Linked DNA regions of Homo sapiens: region 1 is linked to region 2. The links come from fine-mapping of genetic effects on gene expression. Tissue or cell type: monocytes after R848. Region 2 holds a variant in brackets; the other region holds the start of a gene. All regions are shown on one strand. Distances are from middle to middle.

What was found. PIP is the estimated chance that this variant, and not a neighbour inherited with it, causes the effect.
Region 1: it holds the start of PRKG2, and the variant in region 2 is fine-mapped to the expression of PRKG2 in monocytes after R848 (Quach 2016, PIP 0.95).

The regions. Positions count from the first base shown.
Region 1 is chr4:81,210,770-81,218,877 of GRCh38, forward strand. PRKG2 (protein kinase cGMP-dependent 2) reads right to left here and starts at 4,453. Exons shown (of 19, transcript NM_006259.3): 1 at 4,167-4,453. LOC124900726 (a long non-coding RNA gene) reads left to right here and starts at 4,117. Exons shown (of 2, transcript XR_007058162.1): 1 at 4,117-4,189; 2 at 4,796-5,455. RefSeq lists enhancers at 3,485-3,985, 3,986-4,486.
Region 2 is chr4:81,422,337-81,430,444 of GRCh38, forward strand. RASGEF1B (RasGEF domain family member 1B) reads right to left here. Exons shown (of 14, transcript NM_152545.3): 14 at 4,057-5,456. The coding sequence ends at 5,432. Among named protein-coding and RNA genes, the nearest start is that of RASGEF1B, 46 kb to the right of the region's middle. RefSeq lists an enhancer at 4,839-5,423 and a silencer at 5,199-5,493. The variant A/T (reference allele first, on the strand shown) is at 3,703.

The DNA of each region.
Region 1 (8,108 bases), 210 kb before region 2:
GTTTATAATTCCCAAAACCTGAAAGCAACCAAGAAGTCCCTCAGTAGGTAAACGGATAAACAAACTGTGGCACATCCATATAATAGAATATTATTCAATAATAAAAGCAATATCAGCCAACAAGAAGACATGAAGGAACTTTAAATGCATATTGCTGGGTGAAAGAAGCCAATCTGAAAAGCCTATACATTGTATGATTTCAACTGTATAGCATTCTGGAAAAGACAAAACTTGGAGACCATAGAAAGATCAGTGGTTGCCAGGAGCTTGGGGAAAGACAGAAAGGAATAGGTGGGAAAGAACATTTATAGGGCAGTAAAACTATTCAATATGATACTGTAATGATATACACATTTCATTATATATTTGTCAAAACCCATGGAATATACAAAAGGAATGAACCCCAATGTAAACTATGGACTTTAATAATAATGCATCAATATTTGTTCCATCACTTGTAACACATGTACCATACTGATGAAAGATGTTAAGAGCAGGGGAAAGTGCTAAGAGGTGGGTATATAGGAACTCTGTGCTTTTTACTCAATTTTTCTATAAACCTAAAATTTCTACAATATAGAAAGTCTATTAGTTTAAGAAAAGAATTATGTATTAAGAAATGAATGCAAGAAAGCTGATAGCACAGTCAAGGGACAGGCTGAAATGTGTGATGGATGGAAGGAGAGTAATGAATAATGAAACTGAAAAAGTAAGATACTGAAAAATTTCCTACGCCACATTATGGTATCTGAATCTTAAGATACACTAAGTTCTCTAGTTATGTGGTCAGATTTGTCCTTTAGGAAAATAATATTCTCATAAATAAGGAATGGAGTAAAAAGAGCTTAGAGGAAGTAAGACAAGGGAAGATACTATTGCACCAATCCAAATAGGAGGTGATAGTTTAAGGATTAAAGCTCAGAGTCCCAACACTATTTAATGACTTGAACTTCTTGAACTCAAGAAAAAAATTGACCATCTCCGTGGTAGCCAGAGAGAAAAACATTGCCATATGAGATTCAATAAAAGTTACAGCTATATGTAACACTGCAATGTCCTTCCCTTCAATAAATCATGGAAACCAGAATTGATTTTTTAATGATAATGGGCAGTTCAGCTGGAAATCAGAGGAGTGAATTATACAGACTTCTACAGATAATATTCTAGGTGGATAGGAAACTGATACATTTGATGTTACCATTAGCTTGTCTCTCTAAAGTTCCTTTAGAAAATAATTGAATATATAAATCCCTGATTCTTCTCCCTGAAGCAAACCACACAGAGTTGTTGTCCTTGTGAGAAACAGCTCACTTTCACATTAATGCCACAATTAAAAGCATCTGTCCATCCAACCTTGTGACTGTTGACCCGGGGCTCAGTTTGGAATCTACTGCTTGTTTTCTCTGTCCACAGCATCCTGGCTGGAGAAAAACTTTCTCTTGACAGGAAATCATATGACCTTGTTGTACCAAAGTTGCAGCTACTCTGGAGGTTGGTTATCTCTTTAAAGTGCCTCCCTCCCACCCCCCCAGCAGAATGTTCGCGGTGAATTTTATGAATGCCACTATCCTATATTTGACTGCCAAATTCAGCTATTTGGGGGGCTACATTAACAGATAAACAAGCAAACACACAGAAATGTAGGTCTGTAAGTCTAGGTCAGAAGATTATAGCTGACAGAATTTTTGAGTGGTGGCAAGAAGAAAGACGATGAGGATTTGAAAGTTTATACTGTGGCAACTGGGTAAAAGGTAATGTCATTGACCAAAATGAGGAGCAGATTTGAGGGATAGGACAGTGAGTTTAATTTTGGATATACTCAGTTTGAAGCACCAGTGGAAACTTTAAGTAGAGAAGTTTAGTGAGCAGTAAGAAATGAGGGACAAGAAAAGCTAAAGAAAGAGGAAAGCTGAAAATATTAAGCAGTTATTGATACATAAATAGAGGCTGAAGTTGATGAATTGGAGGCAAGTGCCCAGGATATTAGCGATGAGGAGAGGAGAGTGTCTAGGTCTATATGAGGTTGGAAAGAAAACTGTAAGATATGGTAAGAAGGTACTGCTTTGGTTAAAGTGAGAGAGGATGTGAAGAGATTAATATTAGAAGAGGGTGAGTAGGAGGAACACTGCAGGATAGCATCTCTAATGTAGTAATTAAATGGATGTGCATGGGAGGGCAATCAAAATGATTTCAATGTTTTGATCTTAGGAGGCTTGAAGGAAAGTATTACTATCTACTCTTCATTCATTCAGTCATTCAAAAAGAACACATAGGGCACCGTGTATGGGCTAGACACTGTGGCACTGACAGAAGTCAGGAGAATGAGCATGCTTTGAAAAGACAGTAATGAGTCTGGATTTACATATATTGAGTTTGAGATGCTTGTGGGTCATCATGATGCAAATGTCTAGCAGGTAGAAGCAAAAAAGAAAACTCAAGGGAAGAGATTGCTCCATAGAAGACTTGAAGTACCATTTGTAGATGAGATCACTAAGGGAGGTAAGAAAGGAATGTCTCTATTGTTACCTATGAACATATAGGTAATATCTGTGGATATTATTTGTGGGAGAAGAGGAGGAGAAGCAAACCACAAAGGAGAAGGAACACGTGTACCAATAAGAGATTTAGGAGAAGCATCAGAAAGGCCATGCAGATAAGATCCTTAAGAGGTGAGCAGGCTGTACCTCACATCCCACAGGCCTGTCACAGCAAATGAGATCAGAGAGAAAAGTGCTGAATCTGATTTGTCAAAGAGTGGGGATAGACACTCAACTACAAGGGACCATGGAAAGAGCTGACACTAAGAGTAGAGCCTGCAAGACGATATCATGATTCATGTGAGGGATTTTTAAAATAATGAAAATTTGAAAATGTCTGTAGCTCCAGGATAATGAAGCACAGGAGATATGAAAAACGAAAACATGGGAGAAGAAGAGATAATTCATAGGAAAAATAGCCTAGAGGAAGCAAGACAATAAGGGATCACAGGACTTGGGCAACAGCCAGGCAACATATGCCTTCACTGTGAGGTGAATTCTCATTAGCCTCACTTGTAATGACTTCATAGAACTGGAGTTAAGGATTTCACGTAAAAGAGAAAGATCCCTGGGCATCATCTTTTCAGGTCGTTTATTCTTAGTCATACAGCGTTCCAACGGAGAGGATGCACTCTAATTCTCCATAGAGAATTCTCTACCATATTAGCTCATACCCTCCTGTGCAAAACTAAACAGGAGTACTGAAAACAGCTAGTGTATGTTATGTGGGATGATCGCCTTCTTCATGAGTTAAATAGAAACTTGCAAAGAAAAGAGACAATTTCTAAGAAACTCTAAATATGGGGGTGTGGTGGGGTGGGGGCAGGTGTATGTTGCTCTCTTCCTTAAAAAAAAAAAAAAAAAGAAGGAGAAGAAGAAGAAGGAAAAAGCCCCTGGGAACTTGGGGAACAAGATGAAGATCAGGAAATCAAGGCATTTGTCCCAGCGTCACCCTTCCTACCTACTAATTCTGCATGCGTTGCTTTTATTGTCAGCTCTGGCCTCAGCTGCTTCGTAGTTGCACCGTAGTTCTTCTCAGAACTGAACCTATTTCTTTTTTTCTCATCCCCAAAGTGGCTGGTTTCTGGGCTTTGTTTGCTCTTGTTTCTTCATCACCGAGAAATACAGAAATATGAAAGCGCCTCACGGTGCCCAGAGTGACAAAAGGACACCCACACAAGTTTACCAGGACTCCTAAAAGTCCTTGCCTGAGGACTGTCCCCTAGCAACTACCCAGAGCTCGACGAAGCAAAGCCGGGAGCGCAAGCCCTGACAGCACCGCCAAGCCCCTAGCTCGGAGCAACAGCCTCCACCGCTTCTCCTCGCTAAACCTAGAGAACCCTGAGGACTCCCCACTGGGGCTGAGCCCCTCCCGCCCTCAACAGAACCTCTAAACACAAGTAGCCTTTCCCTGCCTCCAGGAGCTCACGAAACGCTGCCACACCGAGCGAATGCAACGCGTACACACGTCCACACTCGAACAGCACAAGCAAGAGACCGGCTGGGTGTGGAATAGAGGCGCACATCGCGCAACGCATTCACAGCATGCACACGCGCGCACCCCGACCCCGTCCCTCCCCGCGCGCCCTCACACCCCGGCGCCCAAGACCCCCGGCCCACGAACCTCACCAGACAGCCGGGTAACTTTCCAGGTGCGCAGCTTGTCACCTCGGCGCGGCCGCCCCTGCGTCTCAGCGTCCTCTCCCACGCCGCCCTCCCCAGCCGCCTGCGGCGCCGGAGCCCAGCGCAGGTCAGCTCAGCCAGCCCCGCCGTGCACACGGTGCGCAGCGTGGGCCCGGGGCTGCCGGCTCAGTCGCTCCGGCTACGTGTGAGCCGGGGGCGCGGGTTAGCGCGATGCGGGCAGGAGCTGCGGCGGCGTCGGTGCTGCCGCCTGGCTCCGCGGCGGGGGCCGGTGCAGAGGAGACACGCAGGGAGGGAGGGAAGAGAGGAGGGAAGGAGGAGGGAGGGGGTCAGCCGGGGCTACTGCCTGGATAGTTGGGCGCCGGCTTCCCTAAAGGTGGGGTCACCCGCGCCCGCACGCACACTAGCCCGAACCTTTACTCCCGACACAGCCGCAGTCTGCACTTTATACCCCATACCCTCCATAGTGAGGCAACTTAAGTAGGGCGATAACATCGTGGTTGTAAGCATTTTTGTTCATGTTATTATTTCTATTTCAAGTGTGTGGGACGAGGGGAGAGGAAAGTTCAGGGAGGTGTTCATTTTTTCCTTCCCCTCCCTTTCCTCCATCCTTCCAGTCTGTTTTCACTGCAGGCTCTCTCCACTTCGCCTTCCCTCCCAGAGCTCAAACAGGCGCACGTACCCTGGACATGCCCTCCTCTGTCACACCAATGCCTTTCTACGAAGACATGTGACCCCGAAGCAGCTCGTCGACGCGCCCCTCCCGGACTCTGGGGCCATAACTTACATCTAGTTTGCCAGTTCACGTGATGCTGGGGGCAGGGGTTGAATCGAGTTTCGAGGGACAGAGATTATACCTTCCGAATCTGCAGGTCTTTGGGAAGGGAGCTTTCTTGATCACCCAAGAAGATAATGCTCTCTCGTCACCTTTTGAGTACATTTTTTTTTCCTGAAGGGTGCAATATGGTTTCCTAAATATATATGTACACCCCACCGCATTATTTGCTGTGCTCTGGAGTTGTGAGATCTCCATGTGGCTTTTTCCCTTTCCTTCTGCCCCCAGAGGAATTTCACCAGCAAATTCACGGAGGACAAGGGCAGTTTCTGTGTTGAGAGATGGAAAGTATAGTGAGGGTCTATTCCTCACTGTGCATCTAGAGAATGTTACAACCAACTCTCTTGGGTTTTTAAACCACATGGTGGCAGTGGGGCTCATGTAACATTTGTATACACTGTTACATACATAAACTTATATTAAAAATGAGGCCCATGTAAAATATGTTGAATGAGACCATTAAGTTTCAGAGGAGGAGGAATATAGTCCTGTTTGTTTTTGTGCTAACTGGAGGAAAATCGCGAAAGTACACAAAGTACCTTTTCATGAAGCTATCCCAGAGTCTGTACATTTTATAAAGACCTCAAAAAAAAAAAAATTAGAGGAGAAAGGAGTGAGGAAGAATTCCACAAGAAAAGAGAAAATAAGTAATTGTATGTCACTGTAATAATGGACTTTTAAGTTGATGGGCTGAATTTTTATTAGCGATTTAATGACAAAAAGGAGAAAAACAGATTTTCAAAGTCTTCACTTTAAAAAAAAATTTCAGATTCAGGGGTACAAGTGCAGTCGCATTACACGGACATAACACATAGTGGTGAGGTCTGGGCTTTTAGCGCACCTATTACCCTAATAATGTGCACTGTACCTAATAAGTTGTAATTCCTACCTCACCCACCTCCCACCCTCCCACCTATTGGAGTCCCCAGTGTCTGTTATTCCATTCTGGATACTCATGCCTGCCCATTGTTTAGCTGCCACTTATAAGAGATTCTGCAGTTTTTGACTTTGTTTCTGAGTAATTTCACTTAGGATAATGGCCTCTAGTTCCATCCATGTTGCTGCAAAAGATATGATTTCATTGTTTTTGTGGCTGGGTAGTATTCCATTGTGTGTGTGTGTGTGTGTGTGTGTGTGTGTGTGTGTGTGTAGTACCCCTGAATCAAAAAAAAATTTTCCCAGTTTTTCAGGTGATAGGTACACAGTGTATGTGTGTGTATACCACCATAGTGTGTGTGTATATATTTTGTATATATATATATATATATATATGTGTATATATATAATATAAAACCACATTTATAAATCCAATCACCCCTTAATGGACACGTAGGTTGACTCCATGATTTTGCTATTGTGAATAATGCTGCAAAGTCCTTACATTTCATTGAGTCCTGGGCTTTTTTAAACAATGGGTTGCTAATTAATGGATTATAAAATTGATGTACTGGGTCAAAGCCAGCATTTTTAAAATGATACCAAATAGAATAAAAAATAGCAGAGTATGCACGCACACTGGGTCAACTGGGTCATATGTACTTTCTTACCGTTCATTGAGGTAAAAGCTTGAAAGCTGTCGATGCAGTGCAGGCTGTTGCCCAGGGTCACCCAGCTAGGAAGAGTTTGAGGGGGAACCTAAGTTCCCTCCCAGCAATCCTATGCTCTGTCAAATCTACAACTCTACCATGCTGAACAAGGAAACGGAGGAAGAGAAGGAAAGTGACCACTTTTTGAGCTTTTAATTCAGTCTTTCAACAAATGTGCTTTCAGCAGCTCCTGCATCTCAGGCCCAGTGCTAAATACTTAGAATTCAATGGTGAACAAAATTAACTTGTGATCTCTGCCAACTTAGAGTGTACAATCCAGTGAGAGAAACAGACATTAAATAAGTAAACACAAAAGTAAGCATATGTGGGAGAAATACTGTGAAGGAAAATGAGAGAAAAAAATATGGGGTTATAATTTAGATGTGGGAGGCTGCAATTAATAATTAACCCAATTTAGAATGGCTTAAATTATAAGGAAACTTACTGTTTCACAAGGCAAGAAGTTCCAAGGTCAGGAGGCTCTAGTTGGTGAATTCAGGAACACAGTTGTGTCTGGGAAGGCCCTGGCCTGTTCCCGTTATTCCCCCTGCCATTCCCAGTATGGCAGCTTTGTCCCCTGGGGCTGCTCCACCCATGGCCCCAGGATGACTGGAACAACTCCATTTATTATGGGCAATCCCAACAGTGCCCAAAGGTCACAGAGATTCTCTTTTCCAGAGTCGGGAAATCGTTCTTGGAAGCTTCCAGGAGACTTCTCACCTGTCATTAATCCAAACTAAGCATGTGCTCACACCTAAATGCTGGAGGTGGAGGGGAGAATCACCATTCCCAGCCTCTTAGGCTCTGCAGGACTGGTTCCTAACTCTTCCCGATTGCATTCTTTGAGAAGTGCATACCCGAATAAAAAGGAGAGGGTGGCAATGGATGCTGGGTAGGCAATCTAGAGTCTGCTACAGGGGCTCAAGAATAATGTCTCTCTGGAAAAAAAAAAAGTGGAGGGCATTTAAACTTAAGATGAGTAAGAGTGAGACAGGGAGTGAGGAGGAAGCACCTTCAGGCTGAAGGAATCTGGCCTGTGATGTTGGACTCTGTGTCATGAGTTAAAGGCTTCCATGTAATTTCTCATTTACTCCTTTGACCTGAGGAGGTAAGCACACCTGAGGAAGGAAACTCAGAGAGTTAAGTAACTTTGATCAAATTCACAGAGCTAATAAGTTGCAGAGCCAGTCTATATAATTCCAGACCCTAAAATCTTGACTTCTTCTACCTGTACAAAGACAACGAGAAATTAAAATCCACTGGCCTTTCTTTGCCATTGACTGAAGAACACAGGCCCCTCAGAGGCCCGTCTGCAATGTTAATCTAAGCACATGGGCGATGTGGGACATACTCATGACTAATCCTCCTCCTACTAGGTAAGCCTCTGCTCCACTAGGTCTCCTGGTCTCTGCTAAGCACTGTCACCAGAGCACCAGAGTTCTCACATTGTCAAAGTTCAGAGGTAGCCTATGGAAATGGGGATGATAAAAGGCCTGTCTTCCCTTGTTT
Region 2 (8,108 bases):
TTATATTATTGTTAAAGATGGATTTATTGTCTTGATTATTGGTACTACATATAAACACAGAAGAGTATAACAGTCTAGTTAATACTCAAAATTTTTTAAAAACCCTCAGTGGCTTGGATTTCCTTTGTTGATTTCTGGGAATAGTGCCACCCATGACAATGGATTGGAATCACTTTTCAAAATCCAGATGTTTCAGGGGCACAATTTGAGATTTGTTACAAGATATAAAGTGAAATTTGTGAATCCCCAATGATAACCAGATTAATAACTGCCTTGCTCATGCATTCAGCACATATTTACTGAGCATACATTAACTCCTCACCACAGCTCACCTGCACTTAGGAGGACCCCTAATTGCACCACAGAAAATTTAATAATGCCAGTCCTCCAACTGCCTTATCTCAACCAAGTTGACAGCACATTCTGCTAAACTTACTTTCCCACAACGATTCATCTGGAGAAAGGTGATTTTTGCTAACTTTCATTTTCTCCAAGCAGTGTGGGTGGAAAGAAAGCAAGCAAACTTTGTTTCATTGTAGAAAACCCACTGGTTTGACATCCATCAAGGAGTAATTTTCCTTTTTATTCTCAGAAACATCAGTTTCCTTTTTTTTTTTTTTTTTTGGAGACAGGGTCACACTCTGTCACCCTAGCTGGAGTGCAGTGGTGCAATCTTGGCTCACTGCAACCTCCGCTTCCCAGGTTCAAGCGATTCCCTGCCTCAGCCTCCAAAGTAGCTGGGATTACAGGCACAGGCCACCACACCTGGCTAATTATTTGTTGTATTTTTAGTAGAGATGGCGTTTCTCCATGTTGGCCAAGCTGGTCTCAAACTCCTGACCTCAAGTGATCTGCCCACCTCGGCCTCCCAAAGTGCTGGGATTATAGGTGTGAGCCGCTGTGCCCGGCCCCTTCCTCCTCTTTAATTTTCTAAAGTATAGGCTACTATTACCAAGAAATCCTAAATTGGGTGATGTGCACACTTTAAGTATTCTAATAGTTAACAATATTCCAAGACAGCTTCTTCATACTGTCCAGAATGCGATTATACACATTTGGATGTTTAATCTCCTGTTATGTAGAATCTTAGAGAAGCAGGGTTTCAGGCTTGCAGGGCAGAGTTTAAGCTTGCTGAAGGCTGGTAGCACTATAAAGAAAATTGGCTACCTGGAAATTTCCTCATTGCATAAAGGTTATAAATGCATCCTTTAAGAGGGACTGATTCTTAGTACAGCATAAAGGCAGTAGTCTATTTTGCATGGGATCAGCCTTGTTTGCAGTTTTGAATGACAGGTCCACAAACTGAAAAGTTTGGTTAATAAACCGTGAATCCCAACATCTCTTTATTAGCACTAAGAAGAGTCAAGTGATCTCAATTACATGGAACAGAGAATTGAGGCAATTATCCAATCATTCAAACCCAGAAAAAAAAAAATCTTTGGCTTGAATTATACAGAAAGTGCCTCAATTTCCTATTAAAACTTTAGAAGCCCAACTCTGACAAAAGTCTTTCCTTTCAAGATGTCTTAGGGGTAAAGCGAACAGAGTCGCCATCAGAGTATTGAGTTTTATAAGTTGTTAGTAGTTTCCAGGTCACTAACCACATTTTTTCCCCCAGGAAATGAATTCAGGAATTTCTTTGAACACTTAGCTCCATTGGAACAGTAGTCTAAGCTTCTTTTTATTCCCAGGCATGCATTCTTTATTGGAATAGTAAGACACCTTTGGAACAGGGGCAGGTATTGTTTTTTGTTCGGAAAAAGGGGTAAACAAATGGCACCAAAGGAAGGTAGAGGATGTTAATCTACAGCTCAAAGTTCTTATATAGTTTAGCAACTAAAATTCTAATGGTGGGTTATGTTTTCTTGGGATTCTATACACAGGTGGCATGTGGACAGCAGTTGGAAAGAGAAAGTACAGAAAGAAGTTAAAAGTATGCTAGAAAAAACAGTAAATGAAGAAATGACAGAGGTGCCAAAGCCAGGTGAAGTGAAGAGGTAAAGCAATAAACCCTTCAAAGACAAAGACAATCAGCGTTCAATTCTCTTGTCTTTGTTAGATGAAAGGTAGGCCACTCCTGTGTCCTCAAAATGGAGGGACATTTCAAGTACTAGAAGGTGCACTCTCCTGGTACCTTCCTAAGCCCAACCAGTTCTGAACCCTGCCCCCCACCTTCCCAGCAGTCCCAGCTCCAAGCCTGCAGCTTTGAAATGCAGGCCTTTGGAATGAACGGCAGGCCTGGACAGAACACATCCTGGAATCGCAGTCTATCGACTGGCATTGCCTGATGTTGTTTATGCTTGTATTTACCCAGGCTTCCATCCAGCCACATAAATTATAAATTCATCTATACACCCACTGGGGAATCCAACGCACACACGGCACAAAAGGGAGAATATGAAATATTTTCACAGGTAAATTAATACAGGATTTAAAGCTCTGGCTTACCTAGACATTAAAATGAGTAGAGGATGTAACTCTTGCTGTAAAAACTTCTTGTTTAAGTAGCCCTAGAATCACTTTTTTTTAGGCCTAATACCACTTTAGGAAATTTTTTTCAGCTGCTACATTTAGGTATCTAATGCCATCATAGAGCTCTCATAGCATTTTTGCAAACTATCTTTGCAATGCTTAAAAGAAACACTGAGATCAGGGGTCAGTAAAGTTTCCATCGAGTCCCATAAAGTAAATATTTGAGGCTTTATGGGCCATACAGTCTGTTTAGTATAAGACGCTGCAGCTGTAGCAGAAAACAGCCACAAGAAGATATATAAATAAATGTGTGGCCATGTTCCAATAGAACTTTACTTAAGGACACTGAAATTTGAATTTCAGATAATTTTCACATCATGAGATCTTCTTTTTTTTTTTCTAGCATTGTTACCTTGTGGGCCATACAAAACAAGCAGCTGGCTAGATCTGGCCATCAGCCCATAGTTTGCTGACCCCTGGTGTAGATGGTTGAAAGATGAATCTTGTTGCTGTCACAATAACCAAAGTGGTAGAGGGATCAGGGAAAGGCAGTGCAAGGAAAAAGGAGGCAATATTGTGAAGTTGCATTCATCACGGTTTTTTTTCTGTATCTTATGATGTTCTGGTATCTTATAAATTTTGCTGGCAGGGAAGAGACTCCCAGGACTAGCTAATTCTTGGAGACAGCAAAGGACTGAGCCCTGAGCATATCTAACTATTGTCAAGAACATAGCCGCAACCTTCCCCTTTATCTAACTTTCACACACCAAGCCAATATAGAAATTGCCCTAACTCACCCCAGGGGCTAGGTACCAAGCAAATGGAGACCGCCCCTCCAGCCCAGAGCCTGCTGGAATTATTCAGACTTGCCAATTGGAAACTGTTGGCCTTGCTCTGCCTTGCCTCCCTGCAGAAACCTCAGTCAAAGCCTATGCTTTCTTCTTGCTCCTGCTTCTGCCCCCGACCGACACCGGTGCTTCCCCTGTGGCCCTGCATGGCATGGCATGTGCCCTTTCTCTGGGGAAATTGAATAATATAAAGCTTTCAGTGGCACTGGCCTCTGTGTGTCATCACTCAGCTACCCCCATAAATTAAAATCTCAACAGGTATCATGAGGCAGAAGTGTCTTCCTACTCTGAGCGGGATCCCAGGACCAGCAGCATCAGCATTCCCTGAGCCTCATCCCAGACCGACAGAATCTGCATCTGCATGTAAAAAAGATTCCCGGGT[A/T]ATTTGCAAGGATATTGAAGTTTGAGATGCTGTGGTGGTGTGGTTTAAAGCTTGAGGTCTGGAATTAGAAGGCCCATTTCAAGTATCTGTGCCTCTCATTAGCTATGTGGCCTTGTACAAGTTATTATTATTTCCACCCCTAATAGGTAGAGATGAATCTATGCTAAACACTTAGAAAATGCCTGGCAAATAATACTATCATTCTTTTTTAAAAAATAAATGCCCATGCACAAACTGTTAAGATAACTTCCTCAGATACATTCTTAGCCAGTCTCTTGAACTGATCCACTGTGATTATAGCCCATGCCCGCCCCCAACAATTCCACCCATAAAAGAAAAGAAAGACGCCACAACTCCTGGCCGCAGAGTGTAAAATATATTGATGGCTGTAAAGGGACAACTTGGGGATATTTTAGGTCTGCTGAGATGATGCACAGCATACATACATGCTCTAGTTTTTGGAACCATGTCATTAAGTTTTCAAATACATCTGTTTTGAACATGGTATTTTGTTTTTCTCATTAGCACGAATTACTACTCTACAGTTTCTTCTAGAGTAAATAAATATAATGGCTGTTTGCAGAGCGACTACAGACTTACTTAGATGTTTAACAAGGTGAACGATTTCACAATTAGATCAACCATTGAGTTAACAGCAAGGTGTTTTTCATCTGTTTTGTTTACTGCTATAGTGGGGACAGGTAACTTCTCCAATTTATTCTTTGTTGACATCTTTAGTTACCAACAGACTCCCAAAAGTAATGAAAAGTCGATTAAAAAGAAAATTGTAATTATGCCATGGGTTTTCCCAAGATCCTTAAAGTCAGCTCATTTAAATTTACAAGAGAAAAATAACAGGCATCATGGAAAACTAAGTAACAAAAAGCTATTGAAAAATACATCTGTGGAACACAGTGGTCAGTTGTAAACAGCTCAGAAGAGCAAAAAAAAAAAAAAAAAAAAAAAAAAAAAGTCCTTCTAGCATGTTAAGCAGTCCAATGACAAACTCTGCTTTTTATTTTCTTTCTAGTGGCTATTTTCCTACCACAGTGTTGAGCTTCATTATTATATTAAATAACTTATATGGGTAAAAAGGAGTTTGCTAACCAGCAGCCAACTCAAAACCTTGTAGGAGGAGGGAGGAGAAAAATTTACAACACAGCACATACTAAGGGGAAACAAAGTCTGCAGTCAGCTTCCAACCAGTCTTACCCCTCTCTGGCAATACTGATTGAGCTAAGGTTTGGGATCTAAACGGGGGGGTTTTAGATCCCCTCCCTCCACTCCTTTCTTCATTTAAGTTAACAAAAGAAACGTGGGCTTCCTCAGAGCCAGCACTCAGCTGGGCAAGTCCCATTAGCAGCAAATGTTCAACCAAATTAAAAAAAACACACACACACAAAAGAAAACTCCATCCAGGTGCAGAGCTGTGATTCACATGGAAATTCCAGGAGATGAATAATGTGCAGAGCCGGGATTTTTAGAGGATTCTTTCTCAAGTGTCTTCAGTGAACATTTCAGTCTCACAAAATCTGAGTCTATCTGTCAGCTGCAGGAAATAAGTTCTCCATCTGGTCTTGAGTGAGCTTGTGTGCTTTGCTGACCCGGGTGCTCCAATGACTGCAGGGTCTTCATGAGTGTTCGTGGTACGAGATGCCAGAAAACAAAGGCCAGCCCCTCCATGATCTGCAGGAAGCAGCAGCAGCAGCAGGCAGGCAGCTCCCATGTGTTAAACTCTGCCTAAGAGGCTCGACCTGAGTAATAAAAACAACACAACCTAAGACAGAATGTAACAGACTACTTGAACTAGGATGAAAATGCCTTGTGTAATACTAATTTTATCTTTCCTGTGTTTTAAGTTTGATTTTACAAAGTTAAACCAGGAAAAAAAAAATCAAGCTTTTAAGTCCTATTGGCTCTCTGGGAAAACTGCCAGTCACTTAAAAAACAAACATTTATTAATGGAGATGGCAAAAGCTTAAACAGATAAATCTATATCTTGCGTAGGTTTATATTATAACAAAAACAAAAAAAGCAAAGATCATTAATGATAAAGAGCTTTTAGGTACAGGTTATCACAGATAGATTTACTTGGTAGATATAAGCATCTTCACAACACATTCCATGAACACTGGGAGAGTTTAAACAATAGTTGACAATAAGGGTGTCTGCCGTCAGAGGTGTATCTGCCACTGATGAATCTACGTGTCTGCAATGAATGGCTCTAGGGCCACCAAGAAAAGCATCTATGTAAAAATATCTTACTGCCTTCAAAGCTAATGTATAAAAGTTTTCAGGTAGGTACAATGATTCCAGAATATAGTCAGCCCTCTCTATCTGTGGGTTTTGCACCTGTGGATTCAATCAACTGCAGATCAAAAATATTTGAAACAAAAAATATGGGTCTGTACTGAATATATACAGACTCTTTTTCTTGCCATTGTTCCCTAAGTAATATGGTATAACAACTATGTATATAGCATTTACATTATATTAGATATTGAAATTAATCTAGAGATGATTTATGGTACAACAACTATTTACATAGCATTTACATTATATTAGGTATTATAAGTAATCTAGAGATGACTTAAAGTATAAGAGAGGATGCATATGGCTATATTCAAGTATTATCTATTTATTATTTTGAGTTTACCCTAACAGGTTATGTGTTATTGAATCAGTAAGACTGATGGCCACAAGAAAAGAATATTTCTGAAAACAACAGCAACAGAAAGTTTCATTTTATTATACCAGGGACTAGAGCATCCTCAGATTTTGGTATCTGCAGGAGGTCCTGGAACCAATCCCCCATAAATACCAAGGGATGATTATGCTTAATCTTAGTATCCACTTAACGTATGTATTTTGTAAATTATAATAGCCTGTTTTATTTTGTTTTAACTTCTTCGTGGTTGCTATGCCTTGGCCAACACCTGCGATAACCCAGTACCATTCAATGACACTACAGGAGCATGGGCTGACGAGTAATAGAGAGCAAGACACTGTGTCCAGAGCTGGGGCAGACATTAGGGGAAGACCCTGTGCTTGCCCTCAAGGGGCTTACATAGCAATAGAGAAAACCACAAACACTACACAAAACCACATGGCTGGTAACGAGAGAGGAAGAGTGCCTCCTGAGTGTATGAGTTCTGGAGAAATTCTTTCTAGGGAAAAACGGGCCAGGGACGGGGGAGGCATTGGAGCTGGGCCATGAGAACAGACAGGATATGGAAAAGGCAGAGTGTGTGGCTTGAACACCAACACAGATGAGAGCTGTTCTTCAAAGCTCCTTAAAAAACAATTTTAACGTGGAAACTGTCTTTTATACCAAAGAATATAATTTTCATTTCAACCAATTGATACGGGAGTGCTGGGAGGGGAAGAGCACGGTCCCTTTAAATGATACGGAATGGGGAAGGGAAGTGCTGGGTAGAGAAAGGCAGGTCCCTGGCTAGGGCTCAACCCCCACGGACCTAGGTGAGGACAGACATTTCCTGCCCAAATGTTGCATTTCCCAAGACCACCCTGGCCCACCACGCCCCCATCTTGGGCCTATAAAAACCCGAGACCGCCGGCAGACAGACACACAAGTAGCTGGACGTGGTGAGGAACACATCTGCTGAAGAAGACGCAAGTGGCGAGTCGTCGAGAGGACATTGAGGGGAGCACACTGGTAGAAGGGCACGCCGGCAGGGCACACCGAAAGATGCCAGCACGCAGGACAGACTGGCGGGATGAGGCGGAGTTTGGCAGGGGCAGTCTGAGGAGCGGCTGGTCGTCGAGAGGACACTGAGGGGAGCACGCTGGCAGATGGGCACACCGACATACGCCAGCACACTGGCAGGCCACTTACTGGCGGGACGAGGCGAAGTTTGGCAGGCGCAGTCGGAGGAGAGCCTGGGCCACTGAGTGGCCCCACTCCAGTGTAAAAACATCTCCCTTTGGGCTCCCCCATAGGCGGAGAGCTACTTCCACTCAATAAAACTTTGCACTCTCACGCCTGTAATCCCAGCACTTTGAGAGGCTGAGGCGGGCGGATCACGAGGTCAGGAGATCGAGACTATCCTGGCTAACATGGTGAAACCCCGTCTGTACTAAAGATACAAAAAATTAGCCGGGCGTGGTGGCGGGCGCCTGTAGTCCCAGCTGCTTGGGAGGCTGAAGCAGGAGAATGGCGTGAACCCGGGAGGCGGAGCCTGCAGTGAGCCGAGATCCTCCCACTGCACTCCAGCCTGGGCGACAGAGAGAGACTTCGTCTCAAACAAACAAACAAACAAAAAGCTTTGCACTCATTTTCCAAGCCTATGTGCGACCCGATTCTTCCAGTACACCGAGGCAAGAATGCTGAGATACAGAAAGCCCTCTGTCCTTGCCATAAGGTAGAGGGTCTAATTGAGCCGGTT